2 separate regions of the Homo sapiens genome follow, and region 1 is linked to region 2. Evidence: fine-mapped expression QTL. Tissue or cell type: whole blood. Region 2 holds a variant in brackets; the other region holds the start of a gene. All regions are shown on one strand. Distances are from middle to middle.

Region 1 (2,763 bases), 33 kb after region 2:
AACGCTTGGATTAAAATAATTTATGAGTTCTTTGTGAGTGTGTGTGGACCTGCTGGTAGTGGCTTTTCTTCATTAGAATTTGCATGCAAGATTGACACTAAGATGGCTGACTTTCACCATCCCAAACCAACCCTGTTTTTGCACCGTGCTGTAGTGGTATGAATTACCTTGCAGGTAATTGTGGCTTAGGTGATGGTACACAAAAGGCATCATACAGCAGCCAGATGTTCATTTTACTAAATGGAAAATATGACTCAGAACACGGGCCAATCTGAGCCTCCAAGCAGGCAAATTAGCCATTGAGGATGAAGTCTTCACCTCTGGAGAGGAGAGAATGTGGGAGCACAGAGCCCAGAGTCAAATGATTTGGTTGAGATCCCCCCACTTTGGTTATTTAGACTTGCTTATACTCCTCTGACCAGACTATGGGATCTTCTACAGAAATTCTACAGAAGTGTGGGCAGAATTACAAGTAAGGTGGGTTGAGGAAGTGCACAGGTGGAAGTGTAGCCGAGAGGATGCGTTTGAGGAGCAAGAGGCTGGGACTCAAGAAGGCTTTATGCAGACTCGAATCTTACATTGATAACAAGCATTTGCGTAGCACATACGAGTTTCATCCTATGAAGGATTCCATAGGATTCTCACAGCAGCCCAAGGATGTGAGCAGAGCAGTAAACAATATCCCTGTTTTATAGAGGAAGTAGAAATCGAGAAGCAGGAAGGTTGGGTAATTTGCCCAAAGTTCCACCACTAGTAAATCGCAGAACTGGGACTAAAGCCCAGGTCTTCTGACCCTCACTGGGCCCAGCGTTCTTTCCAATATGTCATCCTGCCATTTTCCCCTTCCTTCCTCCTCCCCACAGCTCCTTGCAAGTTCAGCCTGCTGGAGGTAAGGGAAGTGATCATGAGAGTTTTTCCAGTGCTGAGACGTTCTGGAAAAAACATGGACCTGTATCTGTGTCCTGATCTGTGCTTCGTGATTGGACTGTCTTGACACTCGTCTCAGGACTCTGGGGAGTGCTTGTGCAAGTGTTTCCCAGTGTGGCCGGCTTCTTGAACGCTGCTAATGGAAAGTTGTAAGAGTTCTATTTTCCTGTTTCAAGCGAGCGTTTCCCCCTTGGGGTTATAGCAACCACTTCCTCCTCAGCACCCGGTGGGTCGTGGTAAACACCAGTTACAGCAGAGTATCCCCTTCTGACAACCTCATTGGTTCCTTTTTTTTTTTTTTTTTTTTTTTTTGCCTGTAAGCACATACACACAGAGTTCTGAAGGCTAGGTCTCCTTTCCTTCTGGTTTAGAGTTTTCAGAGTACCCTGCTGTGGCCTTGGAAACAGAAAACCCACACAGAGGTCAAACGCAGTTCTCGTGGAGTCACCTTGTCATCCTGCTTTGTTTTGGAAGGAACTGGGTCGGAGGCAGCACAGTAGGACTACAGCATCTTTAACCCTTGGTAGGATGGCTGGATCCGCTGAACGCTTGTGGGTAAACAGGAAGCTCACAGCCTCAGTGGATCATTAAGGGTGATACAGAATAGACACGAAAATCTTAAGTGGGATGGGAGCAGAGCAGGACTTGGTGGGTAGATAGTGAGGAAAAGGAGGCAAATAGGGATGGTGAAGAAATCGAAAGGGAATGGGGGATACAAGGAAAGGGTCAGGAAAGGGTGAGTAAAAGGTTTAAAGAGAGGTGCTAATTTTAGATACTTAAAAGTATTTTAAGTATCTAAAACTTGTGGCTGGGTGTGGTGGCTCACTCCTTTAATCCCAGCACTTTGGGAGGCCAAGGCGGGCAGATCACCTGAGGTCAGAAGTTCGAGACCAGCCTGGCCAACATAGTGAAACCCCGTCTCTAACTAAAAATACAAAAATTAGGCCAGGCACAGTGGCTCACGCCTGTAATTCCAGCACTATGGGAGGCTGAGGTGGGTGGATCACGAGGTCAGGAGTTCAAAACTAGCCTGGCCAAGATGGTGAAACCCCATCTCTACTAAAACTACAAAAATCAGCCAAGTGTGGTGGCAGGTGCCTGTAATCCCAGCTACTCGGAGGCTGAGGCAGGAGATTGGTTTGAACCTGGGAGTTGGAGGTTGCAGTGAGCCGAGATGGTGCCACTGCCCTCCAGCCTGGGCAACAGTGAGACTCTGTCTCAAAAAAAAATGTGTATATATAAATACTTAAAAAATATTTGTAATTGCTGGTTTGGGGTTACTAGAATCTCTTCTGAATCTGTCTCAGTTTTTCTTACAGCTTTTAAAATCCATGGAACTCTATCACCAGGAGATGATTGTGGTATGGAGCTGATCACCCCGGAGTTAGTGGGGTGGCAACTGAGATCGGGGGGAAATGGAGCAGTTTGAGGATATATGGGCCGTGAAAACCTCCCAGCTCTGCCCCCAGCCATGCCATGAAAGTCATGGGGAAGAAAGGCCCCCATTTGTGTGTTTGTGTTATTAAATAGAACAGTAACAGAGCAGGTCTCTGAGCCTGCCTGGCAGAAATCTTTCTGTAGCAGGAGTGTCCTGCAACTCTCTGGTGGATTTGCAAAACAGTACAGATAGAAAAACTTAAATGGGAAACAAGCTTGTCTTGTCCTACTTTGTGGAGATAGATAATAAAGCCGAAAGGCCAAGAAGTGTAAATATATAGCATATATCTAATGTATATGGTATATGTACATATCAATCTATAGCTATGCAATATCTACACTATTTATCTATGTTTATACGATGACTCTAGGCTTCAGAAGACCTGTCAAAGATTTCCA
Region 2 (2,763 bases):
TAGGCTCTCCCCCAGAATGGAATACAGTGAGGGGCCTGGCAGAATACTGGCCTAGGGCAGCATGGCCTGCCAGGCCTGCATCAGAAAGCTGCTCAGGCTTGCTGCCTCACGAGTTAAGATGCTGTCAGCTGCAAGTATCAGAAAACTGCAACCCAGTAGAGTTGAACAATAAAGAAAACACATTCTTTCACCTTGATCAGTAAGTCCCAGCACAGGCAGTTCTAGCATTGGCTAATTCATCAGCATAGCAGAGTTACTGAAAGACCTGTGTCCTCTGCATCTCTCTGCCCTGTCTCACAACGTGTTGACTCATCTTTCCTCGTGGTTGCCAGATGGGTGCTACAGGGCCTCGTGTCCTGTGTGGAAATGATAATATCCCTTGGAGGAAAAAGGGGATGGCTCTTCATGGTGTCTAAGGCCGAGACATCTTTTTCAGAAGGCTCCCAGCAGATATCCCCTGTGTCTCATTGACCAGAATGTCTCGAGTTACTCGTGCCTAAGTCAGCCTCTGGCATGGGAGTGGCTTATAACAATTAGTATTGACTCTGGGAGTAGCTCCAAAGAGCATACATTTGGGTGGGTCTCAGTTAGGTCCCTTGAGCTGTTATTCTACCAACGGTTTGAGGCAGGTTTGATTTATTTTTTGTTCTTTTTGGTTTTTAACAAAAACTTAAACATTACAGAGAAAGAAGCTAATGATAACCATGACTAAATAATGATAACCACGACTAAATGAATGATTTAACTCATTCTAGGTATTTACAATCGTTGTAAATCCAATTTGGTCTTTGATCAATTGCCTAATTTTGTTTTACATAATTGCAATCTGATTGTACTAGTTTTATCTTTTATTGTTTTAACGTCATTTCATACAGTAATCAACTGTGTGGTCTGATTCCTGAGTGTGAACTTTGAGCTACTACATCATTTACATCATCTTACTCCTACCTTTGGTGGGTAGTTTCCATATTTTGTTGCAGTTATTGCCATATGCAGCCATGAGTATTTTTGTTAAAATGACCTCTTTTCTTCTCCCTTTAGTGACTTCTTGGGAAGTGTTCCCCTCAGTGGTACTGCTGGGGCAACGTCCAATACCAAGAATGATGTATAGCATATTTCATCTTCCTACACTACTCTCTGGAAAGACTGAGCCAATTACGGGGTCATCTGTAAAGTCTAAGTGCTGCAGTTTCCCTACGACCATTGGATTTTGTTTGTAGTTTGATATTGTCTTACTGTCCCTT[G/A]AAGTTGTAATTTGTAATTCTTTAGTTTTCAAGAGGGACTCTACATGTTTCCTTGTGATGATGGCCTTGAGTTACTCATGTGTACACTGCCTATTTATCCCCATTGAGCCCCCACTGCCCGAACATGTTGATGGCATTTTATATAGTAAGCTGTCAGTTACTTAATGTACAAATATTCTTCCATTCCATGTTTTTCTCTTAAAATTTTACTTTATTGGCCAGGCGCAGTGGCTCACATCTGTAATCCCAGCACTTTAGGAGGCCAAGGCGGGCGGATCACCTGAGGTCAAGAGATTGAGACCAGCCTGGCCAACATGGTGAAACCCCGTCTCTACTAAAAAATACAAAAATTAGCCAGGTGTAGTGGTGGGCACCTGTAATCCCAGCTACTTGGGAGGCTGAGGCAGGAGAATTGCTTGAACCTGAGAGGCGGAGGTTGCGGTGAGCCGAGATAGCACCACTGCACTCCAGCCTGGGCGAAAGAGCTAAACTCCATCTCAAAAATAAATAAATAAATAAAAAATAAAAAAAGATTGTACTTTATTTGGCAATAATGTTTTTATTCTGAATTATTCTACTAGGTCCCTTTATTTCCTTGTGAAATTGTTCTTAATTGCGCTGGCCTGGAAATAGAGCCCATATGGTACTGGAGGGTGATGGTTTTTCATAATTTTTCTTATGCAACCACCCTTAGTGATGAGTCCCTAGAGGATTGAACTGTGCCTCATTCTGTGGACTGGACTTTTTGGAAACCCCTTTTTGAGCCCCCAGGAAGAAATTTGGCTGAGAGCTGATGCCTGGATGCTAGCCAGCTGGCTGCTGGCCATATCCAGCCACCCCAGTCCCCTGGCCATCTGTGCACCTCGGCAACAGAGTGGCGACTGACACACCCAGGCCCAGAAAGCCAGACAGACTGGCGGCTGGAAACTTCATGGAATCCTTGTAATTAGAAATGGAAAAGACCTGTTAGCTCGAGTGGTATCCTCCTCCTCCTCCCACAGGCCCCAACCAGCTTTAGAAGGTGACATATAATTTGCCCTGTCACCTGGAGCACTCAACTGAGTTTTCTGGGTCTTATCTGTGAAATCCAAGAGCTGGACCAAATCAGTGTTTTTTAACCCCTTTTGGGTCTTATGCCATTTTGGAAAGTGGTAGAAAGCCACACACCCTTTTTCCAGAGAGAGGCACATTTCACAGGCCATGTTGCCCTTTCAGGACATTGATAACAAGAAGCCTGTCTAGATCCTAGCCCACAGTCTTCAGGTTTGGAACCCAAAGACTTGTTGATCTCTGAAGTCCCTCTCAGCTCAGAAAACCCACATTCTAGAAAGTTTTCTGTCAAGAACCCTAGGTATGGAAATGGATAAAAGGGAGTCTCTTGTACTTAACTTGGAGGAAACCACTGTCCAGCCCAATGGGTTTCACTATCAAGTATTTTTATTTATTGTTTTATCATTTATTATTTTCCAGGATTGAGTTCAACTTGTGGTACCACGTTCTTTCCCATCATCTTAATCTT

What was found. PIP is the estimated chance that this variant, and not a neighbour inherited with it, causes the effect.
Region 1: ITPKB-IT1 starts here. The variant in region 2 is fine-mapped to the expression of ITPKB-IT1 in whole blood (TOPMed, PIP above 0.99).

What each region holds. Positions count from the first base shown.
Region 1 is chr1:226,673,604-226,676,366 of GRCh38, reverse strand. ITPKB-IT1 (ITPKB intronic transcript 1) reads left to right here and starts at 1,299. Exons shown (of 2, transcript NR_103784.1): 1 at 1,299-1,450. The region is part of intron 2 of ITPKB (inositol-trisphosphate 3-kinase B); the gene reads left to right. RefSeq lists a silencer at 168-317.
Region 2 is chr1:226,706,194-226,708,956 of GRCh38, reverse strand. All of the region lies in intron 2 of ITPKB (inositol-trisphosphate 3-kinase B), which reads left to right. Among named protein-coding and RNA genes, the nearest start is that of ITPKB, 32 kb to the left of the region's middle. RefSeq lists a silencer at 163-338. The variant G/A (reference allele first, on the strand shown) is at 1,245.